Homo sapiens: one gene and its partners. The main gene of each other region encodes a partner of the protein of the gene in region 2 in a complex. Each region holds a gene or a part of one and is shown on either strand. Other genes may lie near its edges.

Region 1 (7,024 bases), on a different chromosome or scaffold from region 2:
CCCAAAAGACAACACAGTGATGCATTTTGTATTTCAGATGCCCATGCCTTAACTTGAATAATATTTTCAATTTATTGTCCACTTGTATTTAAATGGAATTTTGTACTACTCATCATATCCCTAACTTGGTCATGGTTTGTTCATGGTGCCTGGAGCTAGTCCGAGAAAGAAGTGGCTATTGGTAATACATTCATGCATCCCTCTTATAACTTTGAAGCCTCCCTTGTCGAATTTCCCTACTTTTCTGTTTATCTGAGCATGGGAGGGTGGTGGAACAATAAAGCCAGAGAGCATACTAGTTTCAGCAAACTCCCAGACTTAAACTTTTTCTCAGTATGTACATTTCCCAAGTGGACATTGGAAGAGACATTTGAATACCTACAACAAAGTACAAACTTTAAGCATGGATTATAGCTAGCCTTTATATAATAAAGTTAATAAGTCTTTCCTAGTGAACAGATACCAAAAACGGGGTATGGGCTGCCTTGGCCTTGGGACATATTAACTCCTGTGGAATGGGTTAGCTAGTGGGGAGGAGGAACTCGGTGACTCATGTTTAACCTGTCTTTCAGCCTAACTTATAAATGGGTGGAGCTAGACAGAGTTCAGCACTTCCACCTGAAAAGTTACCCTGTGAGTCCTTCCTGAAATAGTTTGTCAGGATAGCTTTATTTTAGACCTGGCTACAGGAGCCTCTGTAGTAGAATGCAGTGCTTGCATGTCTAGGGGCTAAATTTCTCTGTGGAGGCCAACACCTCCAAGTTTTCTTTAAACCAGAATGTGGTTTACTACGTGGCTCTCTAATTAAATAACCAGGTGACTTTCAAAGCTGTGCCTTGAAAATTGGCAGAATGTGTTCACCCATATACTTAATTAGGCAAGCTGAGGAACAGATTTGGGACAGGAGAGAGTGGTTTGAATGTGTGATGAAGGCATATGGCATATTCAGTAATTAGGGTTGATTTTGTAAGTTAAAAGAACTGCACCTTCAGGGACAGATTTCCTTTTGCAGTGCCTGCAAAGGAACTAGTATTTTTTTCATCTCACTCAATGAGGAAGTGTTTTCAAGCTGTTCCACAGGTTAACATGGAGTGAAGACTAATAGGGGGTGGCATCTGATAGTGTTGTCTTGATGTACTAAGACTTGGAAATCTTAGTATTTCCAAGAAGTAGGAGTTAATAGGTGAGACAACGCTGCTGTTGTATTCCTTGATGAACAAGTTGACAAAATGGCATTATAGGAAGTTCTATGTAGGCAGAAATTGGAGTAATCAGCAGAAATCTACACTCCCCGTTTTTTATTTAATTTTAGACTTGGAACTTATTAAGTAGCAGACACTGTCCTAGGTTCTGGATATGTAGCAGTGACCAAGAACCTTGAGGATCCAGTGTACTCATACAGAGCCTTTCATAGTTTAGCTTAATGAGTCTCTCATGTTCCATCTTATTCATGTTCAGTTTTTCATGTACACCTTGGAATCCCCAAATTCTCTGTCTCTGAGTCTTTACACATGCTTATCGTATTTCCTGAATGACCTTTTCCCCTTTCGATATGGATAATTCCTACTTGTTCTTTAAGACTCAGCTTCAAGACCTACTTCTTTCTGTATGTCCCAAACCCTCTTTTCCAGTAACACTTGTTTATGACATTGTTGTAGCACTTAGACATTTCTTCTTTACCCAAGGACAGAGTCCTCAATGCCTTGTCTGTTGTGTAATGTATATATCTCCCCACCGTACATAGACACTGCCTTTAGTAAAGACCATGACTGTACTTTTTCTCTTAGCTTCATACTTCCTCATTTTCTCTGTAAGCATTTTTCTTTTTTCATCTTCTTTTACTATTGTTTTGAGATGGGATCTCACTATGTTGCCCAGGCTGGGACTCTAGGCACATGCCACTGCACCCAGCTTTTCTCAGCCACTGAATATAAATATCAATTATGGCCCTAGCCTAAATGGAACCTTCCCCCAGCCTCCTATATACAGTGACAGAATGAGGGGGAAACATGGGCAGATTTGGTAGAATCAGTAGGATTTGGTGACTTACAGGGAGTAAGGAAAAGGAAATTGCCACCTGGGAAGCTTTGTAAGTCATATCTTAGAAGAAGAGCTGGTTTAAGATGGGGAGAAGGAAATAATTAGTTCCACTGTGGATTTCTTTAGTTCAGATGGCCTTTGGCACATCCACTTAGAGGTTTCCTGTAGCAAATTGGACATCATGATTTGGAACTCTAGAGAAGATTGGCTGGAGTAAAAAGTTGTTTTCGCATGTTAATTAAAGCTATGGGGATGGAGATGATCTTCCACAGATAATATGGAGAAAGAAAAGATAAGGACTATTCATTCATCCATTTAACAAATATGTATTGAGAGCCTCTAGTGTTGGGAATGTAGCAATGAACAAAACATAAATTCATGAGCAAATACTAAACTCTCAGGCATAGTAAATATTAAAGGGATGGACAAATGAAGGTGGTGTCCCTGTAAGTTGACAAGTGAGAACTTCAAGAAGGGGATTAGGTGCCAAATGCTAGAGCAATGTCCCATAAAAGAAGGAAGCTGCCCCTGGATTTAGCAACAAGAAAAAAAGTTACTGTGTAACATTGGTAAGTGCTGTGGAGTAGTGGGAAGGGAAAGCTGAATTACAGTGGGTAGGAGAGGTTAAGAATTAGAGACATCAGGCTGGACATGGTGGCTCACTCCTGGAATCCCAGCACTTTGGGAGGCCCAGGTGGGCAGATCACTTGAGGTCAGGAGTTTGAGACCAGCCTGGCCAACATGGCGAAACCCCATCTCTACTAAAAATACACAAAATTAGCTGGGCATGGTGGTGCGCACCTGTAATCCCAGCTATTCAGGAGGAGGCTGAGGCATGAGAATCACTTGAACCTGGGTGGTGGAGGCTGTGATGAGCTGAGATCATGCCACTGCGCTCCAGCCTGGGTGACAGTCAGACTCTGTCTCAAGAAAAAAAAAAAAGAAAAAAAAATTAGAGGCATCAAGTGTGAACTTACATATCACAAAATAGCTGTGTAGGGATGAGACAGTAAAACTAGAGAGGGGACAGGATAAAGGGAATTTGCCCCATAAATATCATAATTTATTTTTAAATGAATCATTAAAAAGTTCAACATGTAGAATTTTTCTTTAAAACCAACTTAAATAGAAATCAATACTGTACTGTAAATCAAGAGACAGCTTATTGAAATGTTGAAACTAACAAAAATAGACAAATTTCTATTCTCATAGATCCTGCATTCTGTTGAAAAGAAGCACATTGGGGAATCTTCCTATGCGTAAAAAAATTAATAGTATTTCCAAATGATTGGATCACTTAACTCTTTATTTGGTTACTTAAACAGCCTAAAATAGACTAGCTTCATGATACAGGAAATGAATGGGGGTAATACTACCTCCCAATTTATAATGTGAGGTTTTCAGTATAGATAATGGTGTCACTGGGTTCATTAAAATGTCTTTTTTTTTTTTCACTCCTCTGTGTCTTACTGTCTTAAAGTGTCTGAAAATTTGGGCTGTCTACTCTCCACACAGAGTTGCAGACCAGTCAAATGCTTTTATATTACTTACTTCTTACAGAAAACAATGTCCAGAACTGTCTGCACAACTTCTAGCCCTGTACTTGAACCTGGCAATCTAGTCATTCAAATGGTTATGAGTCAGCACACCTGGCATATGCAATGACTATGAAGCAAAAGGGAGGACAGCTCTGCAACTCTTTATTTGTAATTTTTGGAGCCAGAAGTGTTTTGATTTCAGTATCTTGTAGATTTTAGAAAACTGCAGTGCCTATACTACATATTAAGTAATCCCCCCTTTTGGGGTCTGGAGTAACATCCTCTAGTCAAAACACATTAATATTTCTGCACTGTATCAAGTCACATTAAGTATCAAGTCAGTATATGCTAAGTTTTGCTCTCAAGTGAGTTGCCACATGCTTAAGAATAATCTTTGTATTTTCAGAGCTTTACAGATTTTAGAACTGCAGATAAAGGATTTTCAACCTGTACCTGGTGACTTTTCTAGAAAGAGACAGGAGTATTTTGACCCTTTTATTTTCTTGAAATTGTGATTCTATGCTGACATCAAATTATAATTTTTTGGCCTTATGAGGTATATCATGAGGCAATTTTTTCACTAATATGTAAATTAAGACAGGAAAAAATAGCAAGAAACGGTTTTTCTAAAACAAGTAAGTTTTCCTTCAGTACAGATATGGAAAGTACATAGCAATCTTGTTTTATATTGTTCAAGAGCGAAGCCAATCTGTTACTCCTATTTGTTCCCTGAAAAGGAAAATCCGTTCCTTGGGGGCTTGGCTGTTGTTGAGGTATTTTCTGAGAATTCCGTTCCGTTATGTCCCCTCCCATTATATTTTGGCATTTAGAATAATTTTAAGACAGTTTTTATTTTGTATTGTATAATATTACCACTTTCCCCATTGGGCAACTAAGGTTTTTGTTTTGGTTTTTGTTTTTGTTTTAAATATGAACTCTGTTAAAATGTTTGAAATTCACCAAACCTGTTTTTACTATTTAGAAGCCAGAGGAGCCAACTAAAGGTAACTCACTATTGATTCCCCTTTCCTTTAGCAATTTTATGACAATATGTTTCAGCAAGTTCCTCTAACTTGGACTGAGAACACCGAAGTGACAATGGTAGAAGTGTTTTGCTACGGAAATCATCTGGAAAGCAGTGCATTTCAGCCATTAGTTGAATATTTTCTCATTTTCTTAATTTTTGAGATGATTGCAGAATTCACAGTTTTCTGCTTAACAGTCTGACGTACTTATATATGTTATTAAATATTTTGCTTTCTAATGCTTGATGAAACTGAGAGAAAAACTATCTTTTTTTTAATAGTGCTCTCGTGAATACTATATCTCCTATTGGAAAATATCCTTTCTTCGGGAGAACAGGTGTGGTTTTGTTGAGTTGCTTTCTTGTGAGAAGGGGAAAGAAATTTAATAATTCACCATAAAATTCACATAGTGATGCTTAGAAGAGCAGAGAGTGCTATAAACTCTAGATAAATTGCTCTCATTTCAGGAATTTCCGATTAGTGTAAGTATTAGCATGCATATGTTGAACTCAGAATTTCCGAACAGGCATATTCTGCATAAATCTGGACAATGACAATACTTTATTCATTTTTTGTTAGAACTATGATAGCAGTCTACTTTACCATATTGTCATTTTCACACTTACGTTGTGAGACATGGAAATGTAACAGATTGTACTTTATTGCCAGAAATTATTTGCTGATGAAAGTTGAAAGGGGAAAGATGATATCGATCAGAAGAAAACTCACTAAATTGAAATATGTAAATTGAAATATGTAAATTTAAATAGAAATAAAATGCACAGAAATTGCTTGTTCTGAAATGTGTAAGTAGGTTGGGAAGAGGAACCGGGTGTAAGACTCCAGGAGAGTAGCAAAGGAAAACGCTAAATCTTGTGCAATGGGGTCAAGTGATTTTTTATTTTTATTTTTTGCTCATAGTATACCTAGTCACAGTGAATTCTAGGTATGCTAAATTAAATAAAAAGGAATCCTTAAAATTACTATGAATGTTTGAAAAGAAGTAGTGCTTCATTATATTAAATCACAGTCTTTGCTATCTGGAACTTTGAACGAATGGATCAGTTTAGGCTAGGATAATTTTCTGTATAGTAGAGTCTGTACTTGTTTACATTTTATAATTTACCATTTTGGCTTCAATTCGTTAGTGTTGGCATTTTCATTGGGACAAAATATATGGCTTTGGCATCAGATAAACCTGGCTTTGAAGTTTAGCTTCTGCCATTTACTAGGTGTAATTTACGTGGACAAATTGCTTGAATTCTCTGTACTTCAGTTGTTTCACTGAAAAACATGGCTAAAAAAAAAATCACCAGAACAGGGTAATTATGAGGATTGAGGAAGATTGTATAAGTGATTATAAATTGTGGCCATAATTTCTCAAGTTTAAAAAACACTTCTTACCTATGAATTATTAAGAATTAATACATTTGGATTTTCTGTTTCCCTTTCCAATTGATTTACAACTAAGTTCTTCACTATAAAGTAGGTAGGCTGTGGGGTCTCTATATTCTGCCTAAGTGGCTCATGGTTTGAGAACAAATTGAGAACCAAAGTTTCTTATGTAAAATTGAAAAGCTGAGGAGACTTGGGGAAAAGTTGGATTTTGGAGTTACCTTGGGAATACTTTCATAAAACAAGTATGCATGGGTTTCCCCTACACTTTCTGCCCATTTTCTGATTTTGTAAGTCAGAGGTGGGCCCCAATATATGTACAAGTAATTCTCCTGTCATGCATTTTTTCTTGATTCAAGTTGTGTTTAATATAGTGACATCAAACTAGTTTTACACTGTTAAGTAGTGATTTAAAACTGACCTGTAGGAAAAAAGTCCAACCTGTCACCTTGCTTGAGTGGCTTAGTGTTTTGTTTATCATTATAGATTTGTTTCTTATACCTAGAATGTAAGCTTCACATGAACAGATTTTGTTACGGTAGTTCATTGCTGCCTATCCAGTGCCTAGAAAGATGCTGGGCAAATAACAGAAGTGCTGTATTATTTGTTGGGGAACAAATGTACGTATAAATAACACTGGGTTTAAAGGTAATAAAGGATATGTTAGAAATGTTAAATGGTTGTGCTAGTAGAGGTAGGGAAAAAAATACCAATATCTTTGAGCAAAAGTAAGTCGAGTAAAGTTTTGAGTTTTATGGCTCTCTATACCTTTATAGCCATTAAAACAGGAGCTTTGGAAGGAGTCATGCAATTTGGTTTCAACAGAGTCATCTTGTTGAGGCAAATGGTCCTAAAATCCAGCTGAGATAAGGGTTATCCCTACAGGGCTCTCATCCTCAGGTGAGGGAGGGGGTAGCCTCTGTTTTAAATATTTTTTAAAATTCTATTTTAATTTGTAGCCTTTTAAGCTACATTTTGTACTTTTTTTTTTTAGTCATTACTCTAAGGAACAGTATATATATATCC
Region 2 (7,024 bases):
GTCTAACTAAGCTTCTACTGCGGGATCTTCCTCGTCTTGGTGTCCTAGACCGAGACCTCCCTCTCCTGGCTGGTGTTCTGGAGCGTGAGCGACCACTGCGTCTAGCTGGGGTTCTAGAGCGTGAGCGGCCACGTCTGGCTGGGGTTCTGGAGCGTGAGCGGCCACGTCTAGCTGGGGTTCTAGAGCGTGACCTGCCACTTCTCCTGGCTGGTGATCTACTACGAGACCTGCGTCGTACTGGTGATCGGGTCCTAGATCTGCGCCTAGCAGGTGTTCTAGACCGAGACCTGCCCCTCCGGGCTGGTGTTCTAGACCGAGACCTACGCCTGGTGGGAGTTCTGGATCGTGATCTCCGCCTGGCAGGTGTTCTAGAGCGGGACCTGCCCCGGCGGGCTGGTGTTCTAGAACGAGATCTACCCCTAGTGGCTGGGGATCTAGAGTGGGACCTCCCTCGCCTTGCTGACCTAGACCTGCCTCTTCTCTGGGTATTTCTGCTCCTAGACCAGCCTGGTCGCTGAGGAGACCTAGAGCGGCCACGTCGCTGGGGGCTTCTAGATCTTCCCCACCTCTGTGCAGACCTGGACCTACGCCACTGGGGAGATCGGGATCGAGAATGACCTCTCTTGGTAGGGGTTCGAGACCGAGATCGCCCTCTCTTAGCGGTGGCAGGGCTACGGGACCTCCCCATCCTACGGGAGGGGGTATGAGAATGTGATTTATCCCGTTTTGCTCGGCCATGTGAGCGATTCTTAGATGTGGGAGAAGAAGAAATCTCTCGGTGGGACCCTGGAGCTGGAGCAGGTTTAGGACTTTCTGGGGAAGAGCTGGCATGCCGAGAAACTTTGGTAGGTTGAGGGGATGGTGGGCTGCTCTCTGAGGAAGAAGACTGGGGAAGTTTCTCGGGAGACTTAGGTGGTGAACGGTCCCGAGTTGGAGAGGCCTCAGATGGGGGGTTCACTGGCTCCTGGCTTAAGGGGGTGGTTGCAAGGGGTTGTGGGGAGCCGCCATGTCGCTCAGCAAGGAGCGGAGTGGGAGCAGGTGGTTCTGGGCCTGTGCTGCTCCTTTCCGGAGAGGGGCTAGGTCGAGTTGCAGATTTCTAAGAGTGGAAGAGAGAGCAGGGATAGGGATTCATAAACGCCAAAACTTCACATCACCCCTAAGATCCCAACACCCTTTCCAATGATAACTTTTCTTTTACACACCCTCTGACCACAAGCGATCACTTTCATTCAATAACAAGGAATCATATAAAGCACAGTGGTGAAAACATATGAATATATGGATAGCCAGAATCTTAAAACTAAAAGAAACACAAAATGCAAATAACTAATGCACTACTACATTTAACAAATACCACTACAAAATGTTATAAGAATGGAAAAAAACTATCTTTAAATGGAAAAATAAGCAGTTTCCTAAAGCGAATGGCAACTTCACCTTTGAAGAATAACTCTATTAAACGAAAAGAAACAGCATGAATAAAGATGTGAGAACATGATTTGTGTGAAGAGTAAAAAAGCAGCCCAGGATGGGTAGAGTACAGGAAATGAGAAAAAGACCAGACTATTAAAAGCCTTAAATATAATTCAAAAGCAATAAGGAAGTAGTTAAGTTTCTGAGGTCAACCAACTTGTAATTTGGAAAGGTAACCCTGGATGACATGGAAAATTGATGATAGAGGCCAAGAATTCAGACTGTAATCACTAAAGCAAGAGGAAATGATTAATGCTTAAAATTGGAACAGAAGACTACTGAAGACTATTTCAGTGTTTCATTCAAACTATTGGTGGCAACGCAATGGATTAAAAAGTTTTGGTGAGACATGACCAGCATTTAATGAAAAAAGAGAAGAAACTAGAGGCATCATACGGAGTACACAGATAAGATACAACGTTTGTTCCAGTTCTATCTATGTATAAACAAGACACAATATAAAACCTAACATCCAGTGAGATTTGATTCTAAAGGGTTCACAATTCAGTCTAGTAACAACACTAAAAGTTCTGCAGATGCAGTAAGAGAACTAGGAGAGAAATGCAGGAAAAAAAACTGAATTTATTTATTTTAATAAGTTATTACCTCTCCCTTTCACATCACATGTCTATCCTAAATCTATACATTTGCAATCCAATGAACATCACCAACTCAGGAACATACCTCCTTCTTGTCTTTATCTTTGTCTTCATAAGGGCTGCTAGGCTGTTTCGTAGCAGTCTCCGGGCTACTAGGCCGTTGTGTGCTGGTAGTACCTGGTTCACTGAAAGGCGCATCTCCCTCCCCGCGTCGCCCTGAAGCAGGGGAAGGACTTCGCCCAGCCAAGGCAGTTGTATGAGTTTTAGCTGCAGCACTTCGAGACCTGCAGGAGTTAATTGAGGACGTGGGAGAGGAAGGAAATCAGCTCAAAGGGAGAACAGAAAACCCCCTCCCCAACTCCCATCCACCTTTCCTAACTGGACAACCCTCTTCCAAAAAGCCTTTAGTCGCACAACTCAAATCATTCACTGAAATGCAAGTACAGTCCACTTTGGTTCTTCTTTTCCCAACACAATCCCAAAGAGCGTTCTCCCTCTACCCCTTTACTCACCTCCCCCAAACATCCCCAAACCATCCACCCAGCCCACTCCCTACCCGCTTCATTCACAACTCACCTCTGAGCCCACCTCCTTCAGGAAGCCTTCCCCGATTAAGGAAGCCAGGGTAAGGATTCCTTCCTCCCCCAGACACCACGAACAAACCACCACCCCCCCTATTCTGGCAGTCCATATACATCAGAACGAAACAAAAATAACAAATAAACAAAAACAAAAAAAAAAAGAGAAGGGGAAATGTATATGTCTGTCCATCCTGTTGCTTTAGCCTGTCAGCTCCTAGAGGGCAGGGACCGTGTCTTCCGAATGGTCTGTGCAGCGCCTAGCACACCGTGGGCGCTCAATAAATATTAAATTAATTAACCCATCATTCCCTCTCCCTCCCTTCCTCCTGGACTACCCCTTACCGACTGCGGGAAGTATCGGAGGAGGAAGCAGAGTCAGCAGAAGTTGAACGGTGGGCCCGGCGGCTCTTGGGGGCTGGTGTTGTACTTCGAGACCTGAAGGAAGACCACCACCACAGCTCAGGGTACTGCTGTACCTGCCCTGGATTCTCCTCACGTATCCCTCAACCCTTTACCAGTCAGGGACATAACTCATTCAACTCCCTCCCACTAAGGTGGCGTTCACTTACTTCCTAAGCAAATTCCCCACAAATTCACTCACCGCTTTCGCTTTTTGTCCTTAGATTTACGTTTGCTCTTTGGAGTGGGAGACCTGGGAAATAAGGAAAGGTTGTTAAAAGTAACTTCTTTAAAAAAGGAAATAAAACCAAAAGTGAAATGGAAAGAGGGAGTGTTGACACAAGGAAGATCAAGGAATTGAGCTTCACTCCAAGAAAAAAAAATCACCACTCCACATGCCACTGCGCCCCCTATGAGTTAAAGAGCTCTTACCTATGCTTACGTTTCTTGGACTCAGATTCTGACCTGTTGGAAAAAAGAGAAGAAAAAACATAAGAAACACCTCTGCCTGAATTCAGCAAACCTTCTCCAGTCATTCAAGTATTCCCACCTCATACCTGTGCTTCTTCTTCTTTGAGCTTTTCTTTCTCTCCCGTCGAGGAGAGCTGCTCTCTGACCTGCTAAAGATGGATTCAAAAGCAAGCTCATCCTGCTTGGCTTCTTTCCTGGCCCTCCCACTTACAATCTCTCTCCTAAAAAGGTTTCTAAAACACTTGAATGTCCTAATAGCACTAATGCCCCAGACCTAAGCCCAGGACTTATTTCTTCTTTCTCCAACAAGCACAAGTAACTCCTTAAGTCAACAAACCTCAAAATGAAAAAGAAAATTCCAGAATCCAAAATGCTGCTGGCCAATCTTAATTAGCAGAACTGCAAACTCAACACTTCCCCACTGAGAAACTCAGGTATTTCTTCTAGTTGAGGCCTCAATGGTAACTCCCTCCTCCCTGACAACTATCTCCTGCTTTGTGGAAGCCAGAACTGTCCACTTCCAGAGAGAAAGGTACACCACAGGATTGGTCCTCTGGCTATCAGAGTCACTTTCCAACTAACTTACCGTCCTCTATCTTTCTTCTTTTTCTTCTTCTTCTGCTTTGGGGTTGGTGAGCGAGAACTGCTAGACTCCCGAACAAGGCTAGGGAAAAATGAAAAGCAGCAGAGATGGGTGGTAGAACAAACATTCCTTTCTTTTCTTTAAAAGACAGAGTCTAAAAAAATAGTAATAAAAATAAAAAAATAAGAGTCTCGCTCTGTTGCCTCAGGTGGGGTGCAGTGGCAGCAACACAGCTCACACCGTAACCTCCAACTTGTGGGCTCAAAAGACCCTCCTGCCTCCACCTCTCCAAGCAGCCTGGACTACAGGCATGTGCCACCAACCAGCTTTTTTTCTTTTTGTAGAGATGGGGTCTCACTACATCGCCCAGGCTGGTCTCAAACTCCTGGCCTCAAGTGATCTCCTGCCTGAGCTTCCCAAAATGCTGGGATTACGCGCGTGACCCACTGTGACTAACCCTTGGACACATTTTTTTGGACACCTCAACTTCAGAAGAACAAAATCTGAAGAGTTTGGGAAGAAACCAGCCCGCAAAAAGACAAAAATAGAGCATGGAGCTTACAATCAAGAAAAGAAGCTGACAGTGGTTTCTTGGCCTTGTATACCTGTAAGGTTTGGGAGGCTCAGGAGCTGGTTGTTTAGCTTCTCGGGCACGACGCTGAGGATCAAAAGAGCTGCCATCTACGTAAGAATCACTGATGCCAAAGGCAGCACGGAGTCTTTCATTCTTCTTCTCATTTAATTCTGCCAACTGGTGAGTCTCCGTGACCCTAGAGAAAAGAAGGGCAAAAGTCTGAAGGAAATATAAAGGACAGAGCCATATTCAGAACACAAGTATAAGCAGGAGCCAAATAAGGCATGGGAAAGGCAGACGAAAGCAGGGAGGAAGTCCCACGTAAGGAAAAGGACAGCAGCAGCAGCCAGCAGCCAGAGTAGAGTCCAGAGTCATCGAGGGAGAGCGCAACACTCACGCTGGCCTCTGCCCTGGGGTCTCCTCCTTGCCCCCAGGGTTCACATCCTTCTCCAGCAACATGAGTCGAAAGGTCGCCACTTTTTCCTGAATTTGCTGTTCCTCGTACCTGAAGAACAAATCCCTTCAGGGTTAAGCTCGACAGGACACTTTCCCCAGTCCCAGGTTTCCATTTCCCTCATTCCCAAAAGGGGCCCCTCCCTCTCCATGCGCACACAGAACTTTTCGCTCACCCAAAAGTCCCTTCTGTCTGATCTTTTCCCATCATCTTTCTTCCCTCTACTTACTACTCCCTCTAGAACAGTGGATTTTAAATATGCTACACCTCAGGGACCAAAAGAAAAAAGTTAAGCAAGCAGGGTTCCAAGTGCTCCTCCCCAACTTCAACAAGAATGTGCCTTTTACTTCCTGGGATTCCAAAGTAAGGGATACTGTATAAAAGGATCACCATTGCTGAAGTTTAAAACCACTGCTCTAAAAGAGTTTTCTGCCTTAATGGGCTCCTTTTCCAAAATTTCCCTTCCCAGCCCATGATTCCCACTTCTTCACGTATTCTTCTAATTCCTCTTTTCCTGCCTATGCTACTTTCCAAGGCCTCAATCCTTACATCCATTTATCTTCTTCTTTTCTACCAATGACAACACCTATCAGCTTACCTAGCTCCTCTACCTGGTCTCTGCTTTCCCATCTCTTCCTTAAAACACATTTTTGTTCCTCAATGGCCCCTCCCTTCTCCCACGTGCCTCCATTTAGTACCTCAGGCTCCCATCTATGCCCCAGACACACAGCCTTCTCATTTCCCACTCTGCACTGTCCCTTAACTGTTTTCACTTCTCTAGAGCTCATCTGCCTCCTCCCCTACCACAACTCTTTGCCAGGCCTCTTTCAACCACCCTAAGCTCCCTATACATCCCACCTAACACCCCCAGCTCTGCACTCATTCAGTGCTTGACTCTCCCCCAGCTCTCCCTCACCCCTGCTCTTCCATCATCTCCTCCAGCTCGAGGCATCGCAGCTCGACGCGCCGCTTGCGCTCGTGGTCCAGGATGTCAGGATTAGGCCGCTTCACCAGGGCAGCCTCCAGGCGCCGCAGTTCCTCCTCTCCCTTGTAGTCAGGCCGCTCACCCCGGCGGCCCCGCACCAGGGACAGGTTGCGCTGGACGTAGCCGTTGGTGCCGCTGCCCCGGGGCGTCGGCAGCCCGATCCCGTTGTACATGGCCCCGTGCCCGGGGGGGGCACCACCGCTCCTGAGGGGGAGCGGGGAGACACGGGTCAGGCCCCTGGCCCCAAACTAACCACTTACCGCCCCACACCCAAGTCCCTGCTCTCCTTCATCCCTAATTCAACATTGATCTTCACACTAAGTCTTCGCTGTATAATGCTCCACCATCCTCCTGGTCTCCCAAGAAAACCACTTCTTTGCCCTTCCAAATTTCCTTTCTACCAAATCACAGCCCAGTTCTTACAGCCTTTCTCTCAATGCCCTTGCACAGAATTCTAAATAATCCCTCCCTACACCTAAATTTTCTTCTTTTTCCACCCTAGGCAAACAAGGATCTTGTTCCTCTAAAATCTCTCCACACTGTCCCTTTTTGTTCTCCTTTGGCCCCAAAATGCACAAGTGGTGTGTTTACCAACTACTCTAATTCCTAACCTCTGGTAACCAACCAAAGCCTCCTGGTCACAACAAACACCAGACACAGATCTGTGGCACCCAACGGCCTCTAGTCCATGTCCAAAGACTCTCCCAAAAACTTACCTAAGGATTTCAGACCACCCTATACGAATATGAAATAAACTACACAGCCCCTAGGTATCTGAACAGCAGACTAGTTGGTTCAGAATGTGCAGCCTCACACCCCAACTAAAGGCCAGCATGCACATCAGAAACACACATGAACCTTGGATAATCGTCATATACTTCACCTCCCAGGTAAGGGCCATTTCC
Region 3 (6,933 bases), on a different chromosome or scaffold from region 2:
ACTTCCCTCCCTAAGCACAGAGGGAACCATTAAGTGTATTGCACTTATAGAAGGGGACATATCTAATATGGAAAGGCCTCCAGGTACAACTCTAGAGGGCACTGTTTATAGGAAGCCCAGTATGAAGAGTGCCCTGGAGAGGTGTGTAACACAGCAGTAGTGCAGTAGTTTAGTACAGGACATTATTTTGGGGGAAAGCATATCCTTTTATAGATTCCTTCCATATTTGGTTCTCTAGAGATCAAACTTGTTCTTAAAGTCCCACAAAATAATACTTTTGATTTTAAAATCAACTATAAAGTTTAGCACTGAGGTCAGGGCTATATTTGAATAACAGTAACTAAACATAAATATATGTCACTTCTTAAAGCAAAGACATAACAAGTATTTTAGAATAGCATGGTAAATCAATTATTAGAGATGAAAGGAGGAAACAAAACATACATCTGTTAGAGGGTCATCTGCATCAAGGTTGGCGGCAGGAATCTGGTCTAACCGTGGCTTTTTTGACACTGAAGAGGAGGTTGTATGTTCTGGGGGGAAACAAAAATCATTTAACTTAGTAAAACAAATACTTCATTTCTTAAAATGTTTTAGGGACCTGTGAGCACAAGGAGCCCACATTAAAAGCATTATCCACAGTGAACTCACATCCACAGTGCCTGGGCAAATAAGCCTTTGGTAAATATTTGTTGTTATTATCTCTAATGACCTAAGAAAGTAGTACAGCTCACATCAATCTGTAAAAGTAAACAAATGGTTAACATTTTCCAATTGCTACATAAAGAAAAACTATCAACAACATAATTTTATGAGACAAATGTCTTGGATAGTGTTGGTACCTCGGGTTGGACGATCCCTATTTTTCTCTCTTGCAGCAGCTCTCTCTCTTTCTTCCAACTCTCTCCTGAAGTCACGGTTACGAACCTCTTCAGGGGCATCCTGAGTAGTCTGTCTAAAGTAGAAACAAACCAGGGCAAAAATGTTACTTAAACACACACACACACACACACAGAGACTGTAGTAATGGAAGACAATTCAGGAATGAGACTTTGTCCTTCAAGCAGAAAAAAGGGAAGTAGACAAGATCATAATTTAATCTGAAGGTTACTAACAGCCACTCTTGTGATGTTCCCAATATTTCAAGAAGTCCAAATTCAATCACATATTTTCCTATAATAAGGCTTTACAGTGATTAAAATGTCTTTAATTTTTATTAGGATTATATCAACTCAGAACTTAACAGTAATACTTTTAATATACTGACTGGTGCTCATAGTGCATACTCTGAGGCATTATTATTTCTATTATTTATTGTTCTATCTACATATGAAAATTCCTGGTTAGTAGGAATTTCACATTTTAAAATCACAGCAGAATTTTAGTGTTAAACATCCTATTGCATTCTATTCCTATGAAAATAGATAAGTGACATAACTCAAACATACTACTATATCATGACCATGCCATTTAACAGATCTGGTCTTGTTTTGTGAACAATAAAAAAAGAAAGTCTTACTACCTGTATTTTATCTTTGTATGAGAGGGTAGGTCTCTGCTTGAATACTGCTTTGAAAGTTGGCTCAAATCACCTTCTCCTTTTCCCCTTCCACCTCTGGCAGGTTCAAAGGTTGGCCTGGCTGCTGTTGTCATCTTTTATGCTTTGAAGAAAAATATAATCAAGTTATTTCCAACATTACAAACACTCATTTTATAGAGTATTAATCAATATCCATACTGGTAAAATAAGTTCTAAAACTCATTCCCCAAAACCTGCTTAATCTTCTTAAACAAAAGTTTTCAAGAAAACAAATTATGAGGCTTAGGCTGTACAAGGAATATGGCTTCTCAGGCTTGCCTTAGTACAAAAAATTCTGTCATGAAGATCTGAGTTTGCATCCCTATTCTCCTTCTGACTATATGGGCTTGAGCAAGTCACCTGGCTTAACTTTGTCATCTGTGGAATGGAGATATTCCTCATAGATTATAAGAATTATGACACTTGACATGTCAAAACCCTAGTAAAATACAGTACTGCCATGACTGAGTTTTAAAAATTTCCAACTCAACCTTACTCTACCAGACTCTGTAAGGTTTGCATTTTATCTAAACTTCACACAATAGCAAATAGGCTAGTAGAAACAAAAGCTAAAAACAAACAAAAAATATCACTGACAAAGTTACTAAATGTCCCAGAGAAAAGTGTGTTAAACTTCAATGACAGTTACACAGAAAAAAATTCTTAAACAACCGTTTGTTGAGCCAATTTTCTCCTACAACAGGCATCATACTATAAATTAGATCGTTTGTGGGTTATAATTTAAGGCCTGTTCAAAAAAAACAGGAACCTCACCCCCAGAGGATTCTGATGCCAAAAATCAGGGACTCATTCCTCAAGTTACTTTCTGCTTGGAGCAGTCACAAGAATACTGTGCAGCAGATGCAGTCACTAAAACCCTGTTAGTGTCGGAAAAGCAAGTGTGTGGGGAGGGTGGGCGAATTGGGAGGATTTTTTGGGGGGGGGGCGATGCTAATTCTCTCAACTTTCAAAAAGGGTAGAGACATGTATACAAAGAAGAAAACAGGGTTATCTGGCGCTGGGGGCGCCGCCCCTTCCCACACACCCACGGAATTATCACTCCGGCCTCCCGTGAGCTAGTCTTTGGCTATAACCAGAAACTCGCTGCCTCTTCACCCGTGCCCAGCACTGCAGGGGTGCGAAGGGTAGTGAAGGGAGGACCTGGGGTTCGCTTTACGCAGTAGGCGAGCTGCCTGTACGCTGCGATCTCCTCGGCGGGCCCAAGAGCTCCAGACGCGCCTGACAGGCACTCGGTTCCGCCCCTAGCCCGCTGCTCCAGGGCCTCCACCGCCCGCGCTCTGCACTCTGCCGCCGACTCCGACCCCAACTGCCCTTTCCCGTCCCATCGCGATAAGAAAGATAATCTCCTATCCTCTTGCCGCTCACACTGGCCGAGGTCCGATGCAGCAGGCTCCGAAGATCATACAGACGCCATTACCACTCTTGGCTCCCAGAAACCTCTGCGCCCAGAGCTAGCGCCTACGACCCGGAAGCAAAATCCAAGCGCTTCGGGGGCGGAAGCAACGACCAATCCGCAGTGGCCGAAGTGGAAGTCGGCGTAACGGCACTAAGGGGCGGGGCCGAAGCGGCCCAGGGGGCGGGCGTTTGAAATCAGTGCCTTAGAGTAGACCCTAAACCTCATTTTATACCTTCAAGAACCAATTACTTAATGTCTCTTCCGTCTTTTCCGTCCCCGACCCCCTCCCAGACTCCTTCATTCCGGTACTGCGTGGACGGAAAGCCCCGGGTAGCCGACACCACGTCCCCGGCTAGCGGGAGAGAGCGTGGAAAAGGATTACACCAAACTGTTTAAATCCAACGACTCCTGCTTCCATCCTTTCTCCTGAGCTAGAACCAACAAACCTAGAGAGTTGGGCTTCGGAAAAACTAGTGTTTTCATTTAATTGGATATGAAGAAAGAACAAATATGTACGGGGCAACCACGATCTTTACAAAGGTACCATTCCTGCAAAAATATTAACACTTCAAAGCAAAGGTTGTATTCGTAATGTTTGCTAAAATTTCTTATTTAAAAAACGTTAGTTTTAGTGGGAGGGGAGATGTCAGTATTTACGAGAGCGTTTACAATGGTGGGCCCAACTACCAGGAGCACAAGATGTAATTATTAAGATGGCTACTTAAGTGTTAAGTTTTAATAAGACAACGAAAAGTAGAAAACCCGAAAACCAAAAACCTACCAGTCGTCTCTCCTCCCTTCCATAAAAACAAATTCTGAGAATAGAGATCTTGGTTGTTTAGCTCATCTTGGTATCTCATCACATAGACCTTGACGTATAGTAGCTGCTCAATTAATATTTGTTAAACAAATGAAAATTCAACTTCCCCAACTTAGTTTAAAATGTAAGGAACTCACAAAATTGAATATTTAAATGCTTTCTTACCCCTAAATTCTTTGCAACTTTTTAATGAAGAAAGAAAAGCAGAAAAAGCCCTTTCAGTCATAGAGTTCAAGATGAAAATCCTGATTTTTCTTACCGAAGGTATCCCTCCTCCAGTCTTAACAAGTCTCACTAAAAGACGCGATCATCATGCTAGTTACTCAAACCAAAATCCCGGAGTGCCTACTTAAATTCCTTTTCATTCACTCTTCACATACGGTTCATTTACAGGTCTTAACAATTCTACTTTTAAAACTCACCCGCAATTTTATTCTACTGCCACTACCCTTGCCTTTGCCAACACCATCTCCTACCTGGATTGTAATTGCTTCCTATTATATCTTCCTGCGTCATCTTTTATCCTACAGTCAGTGTTGCATATAGCCAAGAGAGTGATCTTTTAAAATTAATAAAATGGTGTTACTATCCTGTGTACAATTTCACTGCACTTAGAATAAAAATCACATTTCTTAATGTGACCTGAGACCCCACGGAGTCTGGTTCCTGCCTACCTTCCAGACTTCACTTCCAATCAGTCACTCGCTTACGCACTAAGCTCTAGACACAGCCAAGTGGGCATTTCTGTTTTATAAAACAGGGCAAGATTCCTTCTATTTTAGGGCCTTTGCACTAGCTTTTCTCTGTTGCCTGTGCCCCAAAGTAACTGTATCACCATCCTTCATGTCTCAGGTATCACAGTGAGGTTTTCCTACCCCCACCCCTCCAACACTTGTGTTTGTACACCATCACATCACCCTGTTTCATTTTTCATACCACTAAACATTACCAGAGTCTATTCTATTCATTTTTTATTTCCATGTCTCTCAGGAGACAGCATGCGAAGGTCATTAAGAGAAAAGGATCTTCAGCCTGCCCATTTTTGTTCTAAATTCCAGTTCTGCCCTTTCCTAGCTCTATAACCTTAGGCAAGTCATTTTCCCTTTCTGTGCTTTCAGTTTCCTCACGTGTAAAATGGGCGTAATTCTAGTCCCTAACTTGTAATACTACTCTAAGGATTAAGTGAATTAATACTTGTAAAGTGCTTAGAACTGTCTCAGCAAATAGTACTTGCTAAATAAATGTTAGCTATTATTATTATTATTAATATTATTTTTATTATTATTGTCTATCTTCCTATATTAGAACATAAGTTCCAGGAAAGCAGGAACCTTGTCTCTCTTGTTCACTGGGTGTATCCTCTGCATATAGAACAGTGCCTGGCACATAATAGGTGCTGAGTAAGTATTTGTTGAATGAATGAATGAATGAATGATGCACTATGAAGTAGAGGAATGACGTAACAATGGCAAGATGGTAACACAATTATAGGAGATACCCACAGTTTTTATGTTCCAACTGTCCTCATTAGCCTGGAGTGAATCACTTCATTGATTTAACTCCCAGCCCACTAACCTAATCTTTTGGTTGCCAGTGGTGATAAATAGCCACCCTATAATTTCATTAACACCAATATACAATATAGTCAATCCACAAAATTAAAAGCTTTTGACTTAAATGAAAGTGCTAATAAGAAAATGAAACTAAAGCTTTTGACTTAAATGGTTTGAAAGTATTAAGAAAAAGAAACTTAAGTTTACTAAAATCTTGAAATTCATCTGATCAGTTAACCTAGCTGGCAAAAATCATATAACCTCCCAAGAATTCTTATGTTAAACCTGTTACCACAAAATCTAGTTTGGCCCTTAATTCTGCCTGCCAGTCCTCTTATGCTCTCCTAATTGTTTATTTTCCCCCTCTACAATAATATAATTTCCCACATTCCCCTTTCTTCAAGTCTACATGCCTCTTTCACCTCCTTTTCCCTCTGCATTCTCTTTCCTGGCAGTAGATCTTCTCAGTTCTCTGAGAAAACAGAAGCTCTTAAACAAGGACTTCTCATCTCCTTTTTTCCGCAGATCTATCGAGCTGCCTTTGGCTATTCCTGTATCCTCAGATTCTCATTATTACTGGAGATGAGGTGACCCACACTCTCCCTTGTGCTCTGGGTCCTAATTCCTCCAGGTTTCTTAGTGGCTGGCATTTTGCTATATATTTTCTCTTTCTTATGATCTATGAGGCCATCCCTTTCAGATCATTTTTATCAGCTTTTGGACATGGTATAGTATATCTTAACCTTAAAAAAGGCTCTTTCATTTTAGTATGCCAAAGGTAGCATTTAATTAAATGTGAAAGGGATGTAGTTTGGCCCTTGATTGCAAAACTTTCTATTTTTATGGCAGGAGTAGCATAGGAATTCCAGTTTAAAGCTTAAACAAAATCAACACCTAAAAGGGAAAATAGAAACCATAAAAACCTAAGAAGAAAATTTAAGAAACTATTTATAGAACCTAGAATTTGGAAAGACCTTTCAATCAAAGCAGAACACCTTAAGAGCTTTAAAAGAAATACTTTTAAAAATTCATTTATCCAACAATTAATTTTATAGCTGTAGATGCCAAAAACAAGTCAATAAATTCTAGATTCGCAAATAAATTTTGTAATGCCTATAACATATAAAGGATTACTGCTACTGCTAGTGATACACATAATATAAAAATCACAAATTACCCAATTAAAAAATGGACAAAAGATATAAGCAGGCCATTCAGAAAAAGCAATTTCAAATAGACAAGTCAATAAACATGAAAGACACTCAACCTTCTAATGAGGAAAATGAAAGTAAACTAAAAATGGATTATCACATTACAGCATCCGATTGGCAACAATTAAAAAAATTAATAACATAGTTGGATGGGATTGAGAGAAAAGGGGATCCAGTCAGACAGCGGGGGGCATTGGTCCCCCATTACCCTCACAGTAAAAGCCAAGGTGTTCACAATGGTTTCCAAAGTTTTCTATGGTCTACCCTTTCCCCTACCTCTTTGACCTCATCACTTGCTCATGCTTTTCATGGCTACCTCCTTCATATTGTTGCTTGGACACGCACACAGCTGC
Region 4 (7,024 bases), on a different chromosome or scaffold from region 2:
GAGGGATGGGCTGGAGAAGAGAAGGAGCCAGCCATGGCGCAGTTCTTGTTCTTAGCATGATGAAGGGCCACAGATTGGTGTGCAGCAGGGTGACGAGGGGCAGACATACCTCTAGTGGTCATCAGGCAGCCTGTGGCAGTGGATGGGGTGAGGCAGAGATGCAGATGAGGCGCCACCCAGCATCCAGGGAGACAAAGGGCTCAGGCCTGCAGCTTCAGCATCAGTGATTGATGAGAAAAGGAAGGGCAGAGGTACAGCCTGCAAGTTGCTGACAGGTTCAAGATTTGGGGCAACAAAAATGAGAAAACCAAGAACAAGGCCTAAGTTAGGGCTTAGTGTGAAGAACTAGAAGTGGGGGGTGGCCTGAGGGCAACAGGGAGCCCAAGAGGCAAGTGTCAGGCAAGGAGAGTCCATGACATGAGAACACTGACCACTGGCCTGGGCTGAAGACGAAGAAAAAGCCAGCCAGGGGCACATTTAACAGAAAAATGGGGGTTGAGGGAGGGGTCTTTCTTTAAGGGCTGCTGATGCAGCTGGCCCAAGGCCATCAGAGTCAGTGACTGACAGGAGGAGCAGAGTCTTGGAGCCCAGTGGCCGGGCCTGAGAGCAGCAAGGCCACTTCAGCAGGAGGGCGGGGAGAGGGACATCCACTTGTTCTCACAGCAGGAGACACTGGCCTCAACCCAGTGTGGGTCCCCTCAAGATTCTCACAGGGGCACAGAGACGCCAGGCAGGCTTGAGATGAAGCCCAGGTGGTTCACAGCCAGAGCAGGTGAGCAGGGCCCTGAGAGCTCAGGCAGGGCACGGCAGGAAACTCAATGCTGCCGTCCAACACCAGCCTTCAGAAGCCCCTGAAGTTTTGTCAAAACAGACCGAGAAGCCCACCCTGCAGAGGCTTAGGCTCAGTAAGTCTGGGGTCTGAAAACTTGTCCCAGGTAATGGCGTTGGTCAGGGGACCACACTGGTTGTATAAATAGGCTGTCCCTGAGAAGATGACAGAAGTAGGGGTAAGAAAACCAGACATATACAGCTGGATGTAGTGGTGCACGGCTGTAGTCCCAGCTACTTGCGAGGCTGAGGCAGGAGGATTGCTTGAGCCCAGGAGGTCGAGGCTGCAGTGAGCCATGATCACACCACTGCACTGGAGCCTGGGCAACAGAGCAAGACCCTGTCTTAAAGAGGAAACCACAATCTGGAGACACAGTCCTTCCTCACTAACCTGGCCTGCCTACTAGAGGGGAGGCCTGAGGCACCAGCCTGGGTGTAGGGCAGGCCTTGTGCTTGAAGGTCCCAGCAGTGGGCTCTGGCTGGGCCAGGTCCTGGAAACAGGGCCAAGGCCCTTGGCAACAGGTTAAGGGATGGGAAGGCTGTGGGCTCCCAGGGGCCAGGAAAGGGGATGCAGGCAGCAGGCAAGCAATTTATTGGCTGGCAGCAGAGGGCAGGCTAGAAAGGCTGGAAATGGAGATGTGGACATGGGCCCCCAGCCCTGCAACCCCACCAAGGTCCACAGCGGCCAACCTGCTGCTACCAGGAGCTGAAGTCCCCAAAACCCCGACTGGGCTTCTTCTTGGACATGGGGACAGTGGCACTGGTTGAGGGCTCTTCCTCTGCTGCTCGCTTCCTGGGAAGAGAAGAAGCCGCTGGGAGCCCACACCCTCCCTCAGCCCCTCCTGACTTGTCTGTGTCTCCATACAGCCCTCCCGGTGTAGGCCCAACCCCTCCCACCTGCTGCTCCCACATCCCCCTGAATTTGATCTCTTCCACCCACAGAGGCCCCGGCCAGGCCTTCAGAGGCAGTCCCTCGGCTGCAGAGGCCACACAGCACAAGCCCACGGCCGGGACCAGTGCCCATAGCTTGCTTGCCCCTCTGGGTCTGACCCTCAGACCTCAGTCAGCCCTAGGAAACACCATGGGAAACAGGGAGGCCAGCCCCGCGGCACTCACGTGGCTGCTGGGTTGATGTACTTGCCCACGCCCTGGCGGAAGGTCTGGGGGCCCTGGCTCCCTGCCTGGGGCTGGCTGCTCTTCACTTTGGTCTCCGGGGCTACCTTGAGCTGTGTCTTCCGCTCCTGCGCAATCTGTGGCACAACAGGGCGCTGGCTAACCGGCAGCACCTCGGGCAGGACAGATGCTAGGCTTGGGGTGGAAAAGTGCACTAGCCCAGACCCTCCTAGGTGGTGGCATCGTGCCCCCTCACCTGGGCATCGGCCTCCTCATAGGGGTCCACGAACACTGTAGTGGCATCAATGCGGATCTCCTCCTAGCAGCAAAGGGGGCTCAGTGCACGGCAGGTCCTCCCCCTGCCTGCCTGGCCCCCAGCCGCCACGCCCCACCTCCCTGGGCACAGACCTTAGGGCGGTCAGTTTTGGGGTCACTCTCCACATTCTCCATGGCTGTCAGTACGTCAAAGCCCCCAACAACCCTGCAGCAGGGAGACAGAGGTGGGTCTGCGTGTGCTCAAGGAGGGCACCCCCACGGCTGAGCCCCAAGGCACGTGGGAAGAGGGGTTGAGAGCCCCGAGGCTGGCCTGGTGGTCCTTGGGCAGCAGCCAGGAAGGCGATGAGAGGGAGTGGCAAGGGCGGGGTCGGCTGACCATGGCCCTGGGCATATCCAGCTGGGTTTTTTTCTGTTTTTGTTTTTTTTTTGGTTTCCCCCACCCACAGGAAAAATAGGAGTCACAAAACGTGGCTTGTGCTCTCCCCGCTGGTTTGGTAAACAGAGTTCCACTTGGCCAGAACCACATCACCTGCGTCCACCCTGTTTCGTGCTGCTTCCACACAGCTGGGTGGGCGTCAGAGACCACGTGGCCCACAACGCTGGAAAGACCCCTGGACTAGAGGGTGAAGGGAGCTGGGTGTGGCCAGGCTTGCGAGTGGCGCGCCACTGGGTCTGAGACAGGGCAGTGTCCAGGCCACATGGGCGAGTTTCCTCCTCTCCTGAGCCCGGTGGGTCTAGAGAGCCAGACTTCCCTGGCACATGGAGCACCCTCCATCGCAGCTCTGCATAGCCTCAACCCCCAGCAGTGATGGCCAGCATGGCACATGACTCAGGTCCACGAAAAAGGCAGTGAGGAGGCCTCAGGTGGGGAAGGAACCCACCTAGCCCACTGACCCCCCAGGCTTCACACAGCCGCTTCCCTTACCGTCCAAAGATGGTATGCTTCTTGTCCAGGTAGGCACAGGAGCGAAACGTGATGAAGCTGGGGAGGAGGGCTGGATGGTTAGGGAGAGCATGGCACCTTCTGCACCTGGCCTGCCTAAGAGCACACCAGGAGCTGCCCACCCTCTACAGCCAGCTCTGGGAACCTGCAGCTTCCACGGACGCATGTGTGCACGTGGTTCCCTGCGCTGCCCACCAGGGCAGGTCATTAGCCCCCAAGGCTGCCCAGGGGACCCCGGAACTCCAGCTGTCCCCAGGTCTTCCTGCTGCCCCGGCTGCTGCCCACTGCCTGTCAGGTGGTCCCTGTGCCCAGAACCAGGTTGGCCATGCAGCTCTGTGGGAGGTGGCTGGGACGAGGGGACACCTGGAAAACCAGAGCCAGCCCCATGTCATCAAGGGACCTGTTGAAGGACTGAGGAGAAAGGAGGCAACAAAGCCAGAACAGGAGTCAAGGGATTAAGAAACGTGGGTAACATAAATAAACATGGACTAAGAAAATGCTCAGGTCGTCCAGGCACAGTGGCTCACGCCTGTAATCCCAGCACTTTGGGAGGCCAAGGCAGGTAGATCACTTGAGGCCAGGAGTTGGAGACCAGCCTGGCCAACATGGTAAAACCCTGTCCCTATTAAAAATACAAAAATTAGCTGGGCGTGGTGGCGTGTGCCTGTAGTCCCAACTACTTAGGAGGCCAAGGCAGGAGAATCGCTTTAACCTGGGAGGCAGAGGTTGCAGTAAGCTGAGATCACACCACTGCACTCCAGCCTGGGCGACAGAGTCTGTCTCAAGAAAAAAGAAAAAGAAAAAAGGAAATGGGGTGGAATTAAAACAGCCAACAGCACTGCCATGAGACGAGGAGAGAGTTTCTGCCAGCCTGGTCTGGGAGGAAGGCAGAGACTACCTCATAACTTTGGACTTTTTTTTTTTTTTTTGAGATGGAATCTTGCTCTGTCCCCCAGGCTGGAGTGCAGTGGCGCGATGTCGGTTCACTGCAAGCTCCGCCTCCCAGGTTCATGTCATAGTCCTGCCTCAGCCTCCTGAGTAGCTGGGACTACAGGCGCCCGCCATCACGCCCAGCTAATTTTTTTGCATTTTTAGTAGAGACGGGGTTTCACTGTGTTAGCCAGGATGGTCTCAATCTCTTGACCTTGTGATCCACCTGCCTTGGCCTCCCAAAGTGCTGGGATTACAGGCGTGAGCCACTGCACCTGGCCAACTTTGGACTTTAAATAGATGTCCTTCTTAACCTTAGACCAGAAGTAAAACATCTAATTTCCAAACCAGCAGAAAGAGAAGAGAAGCAAATGAAAATAAATATAAAAAATGGTAACTAGAAAGCAACAAGATCATAGAACGCAACAGACCACCTGAAGAATTAAGTCCACATTTAAGATTGTCAGGATTGGCCAGGCACAGTGGCTCACGCCTGTAATCCCAGCACTTTGGGAGGCCAAGGTGGGCGGATCACAAGGTCAGGAGATCGAGACCATCCTCGCTAACACGGTGAAACCCCATCTCTACTAAAAATACAAAAAATTAGCCAGGCGTGTGGCGGGCGCCTGTAGTCCCAGCTACTAGGGAGGCTGAGGCAGGAGAATGGCATGAACCTGGGAGGCGGAGCTTGCAGTGAGCCGAGATCGCGCCGCTGCACTCCAGCCTGGGGGACGGAGCGAGACTCCGTCTCAAAGAAAAAAAAAAAAAAGACTGTCAGGATGAAGGAGAACACGACAGACCCCAGCTGTGAGCCTTCAAAAAGCCCTCAGAGGGCAGAGCCAGAGAGGCTGAAAAGAAAACGATGGAAGACATGGGGTGGGTCCCGGCGCTGGCGGCACGGAGCACTCCCCAGGGTGGTGCAGGCAGGCACAGCCCACAACCCGGCTGGTGAGACACAGGACTTAACCTCCACTGCATCAAACATGCACCCCCCAGCCACGCAGGGACACGCTCCTGAGCCCACCAAGTCTGACCACACCCGAGGCCACCAGACAAGTGTCCGCAGATGTGACATCTGCAACGGTGCAGACCTGAGCTCTGACCTGCAAGCAGTTCCCTCTCTTGCTGATTTCTAACACAGTGAAGGAAACTAGAAGCAGAATTAAACTCAGATAAGAGGAAAGTAAAAGAACCATCCTGAGGCAAGCTCCTCCTAGAAAATCTTTTTTTTTTTTTGGAGACGGAGTCTCGCTCTGTCACCCAGGCTGGAGGGCTGGAGTGCAGTGGCGCGATCTCGGCTCAATGCAAGCTCTGCCTCCTGGGTTCACGCCATTCTCCTGCCTCAGCCTCCTGAGTAGCTGGGACTACAGGCGCCTGCCACCATGCCCGGCTAGTTTTCTGTATTTTTAGTAGAGATGGGGTTTCACCGTGTTAGCGAGGATGGTCTCGATCTCCTGACCTCGTGATCCGCCTGCCTCGGCCTCCCAAAGTGCTGGGATTATAGGCATGAGCCACCGCGCCTGGCCTCCTCCTGGAAAATCTTTAATTACAAGAATCACAAAAGGGAAAACAAAGCTGTAACAAATTAAAGTCTAATGATCTTTGAATACGGTAAAATAGGCAAACCTTTGGCAACAGTTGTCCAAGAAAGCACAAAATACTACTAGAAATAAGAAAAGAAGGCCGAGTGTGGTGGCTCATGCCTGTAATCTCGGCACTTTGGGAGGCTGAGGTGGGTGGATCACCTGAGGTCAGGAGTTGGAGACCAGCCTGGCCAACATGGTGAAACCCTGTCTCTACTAAAGTACAAAAAATTATCCTGGTGTGGTGGTGGGCGTCTGTAATCCCAGGAGAACCGCTTGAACCCAGGAGGCAGAGGTTGCAGTGAGCCGAGATCCCGCCATTGCACTCCGGCCTGGGTGACAAGAGTGAAACTCCATCTCAAAAAAAAAAAAAAAAAAAAAAAAGAGAAGGTGGCAACTGATCTGTCAGCAGTTTCACAGGCTGGTTAAGCCAAAGAGAAATAAAAAATAATAAAATGATTCCCTGCCCTGGCCCCTGCCAAACAACAAAAACAAACCACGCACCCAACCTACTTGAAAATAACCAACAGTCCTAGGCAATCCTTGGCTGAGAAGAAATTGAAAGGGAAGCTACCAACAACCAGCAAGCAGTGAAGAGGGAACATGCACCCTCAAAATGACAGACGTGGCTATCAGAAACACACATGGATTAAAGTGAGGAAGGAGGAAAAGCACCATGAAGAAGCAAAGACAGAAACTGAAAACAATTACAAACCCTTCAAAGTGAAGTGAAAACAGACAAACCCTTCAAAGACCACTAAGGGACTGAGGAATGGAAAGTGTGATTAGGCATGAGAAAAAAAGGTCAGCACAGCGAGGCCAAGAGAATACCAGCCTTCATGGAAACAAGTGCCCGTTAACCCTGAAATGAAAGCCCCAAGGAAGTGGCACGAATAGCTGCCAGCTGCCTTTGCCCAGCTGTTAAGCACAGCTGACTCGTTTGATTTTTTTTTTTTTTTCCAGACAGGGTCTCACTGCTGCCCAGGATAGAGTGCAGTGGCGCGATCCTAGCTCACTGCAGCTTTGACTTCCCAGGCTCAGATTATCCCCCCACCTCACCCTCCCAAGCAGCTGGGACTACAGGCGCACGCCACCATGCCCCGCTAATTTTTTTTATTTTTTGTAGAGATCGGGTTTTGCCATGTTGCCCAGGCTGCTCTCGAATTCCTGGGCTCAGGCAATCCACCTACCTCAGCCTCCCAAAGTGCTGGGATTACAGGTGTGAGCCACCACGCCTGGCCATCCCTGTGATTTTAACCATTCCAGGCCACAAAGCCACAGCCAGCCCTGCTCGTAACATGCAGGGGCCACACCTGTCACAGCAAAACCTGCTGGAGCCAGTCCACACAAC

Evidence for each region.
Region 1: SRRM2 (region 2) and CWC22 share a complex: the UniProt entries of both Homo sapiens proteins name them as parts of the minor spliceosome.
Region 3: SRRM2 (region 2) and CWC15 share a complex: the UniProt entries of both Homo sapiens proteins name them as parts of the minor spliceosome.
Region 4: SRRM2 (region 2) and PPIL2 share a complex: the UniProt entries of both Homo sapiens proteins name them as parts of the minor spliceosome.

What each region holds. Positions count from the first base shown.
Region 1 is NC_000002.12:179,997,289-180,004,312, reverse strand, and holds part of CWC22 (pre-mRNA-splicing factor CWC22 homolog), read left to right. Parts: intron 1-4,406; exon of another isoform or gene 4,407-4,582; intron 4,583-7,024. UniProt on the Homo sapiens protein: Required for pre-mRNA splicing as component of the spliceosome. As a component of the minor spliceosome, involved in the splicing of U12-type introns in pre-mRNAs. Promotes exon-junction complex (EJC) assembly.
Region 2 is NC_000016.10:2,755,633-2,762,656, reverse strand, and holds part of SRRM2 (serine/arginine repetitive matrix protein 2), read right to left. Parts: intron 6,324-7,024; coding exon of another isoform or gene 6,293-6,323; coding exon 6,051-6,292; intron 5,186-6,050; coding exon 5,078-5,185; intron 4,877-5,077; coding exon 4,712-4,876; intron 4,188-4,711; coding exon 4,110-4,187; intron 3,673-4,109; coding exon 3,610-3,672; intron 3,518-3,609; coding exon 3,485-3,517; intron 3,306-3,484; coding exon 3,255-3,305; intron 3,089-3,254; coding exon 2,996-3,088; intron 2,911-2,995; coding exon of another isoform or gene 2,868-2,910; exon of another isoform or gene 2,535-2,867; intron 2,357-2,534; coding exon 2,158-2,356; intron 1,097-2,157; coding exon 1-1,096. UniProt on the Homo sapiens protein: Required for pre-mRNA splicing as component of the spliceosome. As a component of the minor spliceosome, involved in the splicing of U12-type introns in pre-mRNAs.
Region 3 is NC_000011.10:94,970,533-94,977,465, forward strand, and holds the start of CWC15 (spliceosome-associated protein CWC15 homolog), read right to left. Parts: upstream 3,025-6,933; 5' UTR 2,966-3,024; exon of another isoform or gene 2,741-2,965; intron 1,662-2,740; 5' UTR 1,654-1,661; coding exon 1,523-1,653; intron 956-1,522; coding exon 843-955; intron 534-842; coding exon 445-533; intron 1-444. UniProt on the Homo sapiens protein: Involved in pre-mRNA splicing as component of the spliceosome. Component of the PRP19-CDC5L complex that forms an integral part of the spliceosome and is required for activating pre-mRNA splicing.
Region 4 is NC_000022.11:21,689,991-21,697,014, reverse strand, and holds part of PPIL2 (RING-type E3 ubiquitin-protein ligase PPIL2), read right to left. Parts: intron 5,631-7,024; coding exon of another isoform or gene 5,522-5,630; exon of another isoform or gene 4,837-5,521; intron 3,200-4,836; coding exon 3,143-3,199; intron 2,423-3,142; coding exon 2,350-2,422; intron 2,261-2,349; coding exon 2,198-2,260; intron 2,079-2,197; coding exon 1,945-2,078; intron 1,622-1,944; coding exon 1,525-1,621; coding exon of another isoform or gene 1,419-1,524; 3' UTR 1,149-1,418; coding exon of another isoform or gene 863-1,148; 3' UTR 131-862; coding exon of another isoform or gene 1-130. UniProt on the Homo sapiens protein: Has a ubiquitin-protein ligase activity acting as an E3 ubiquitin protein ligase or as an ubiquitin-ubiquitin ligase promoting elongation of ubiquitin chains on substrates.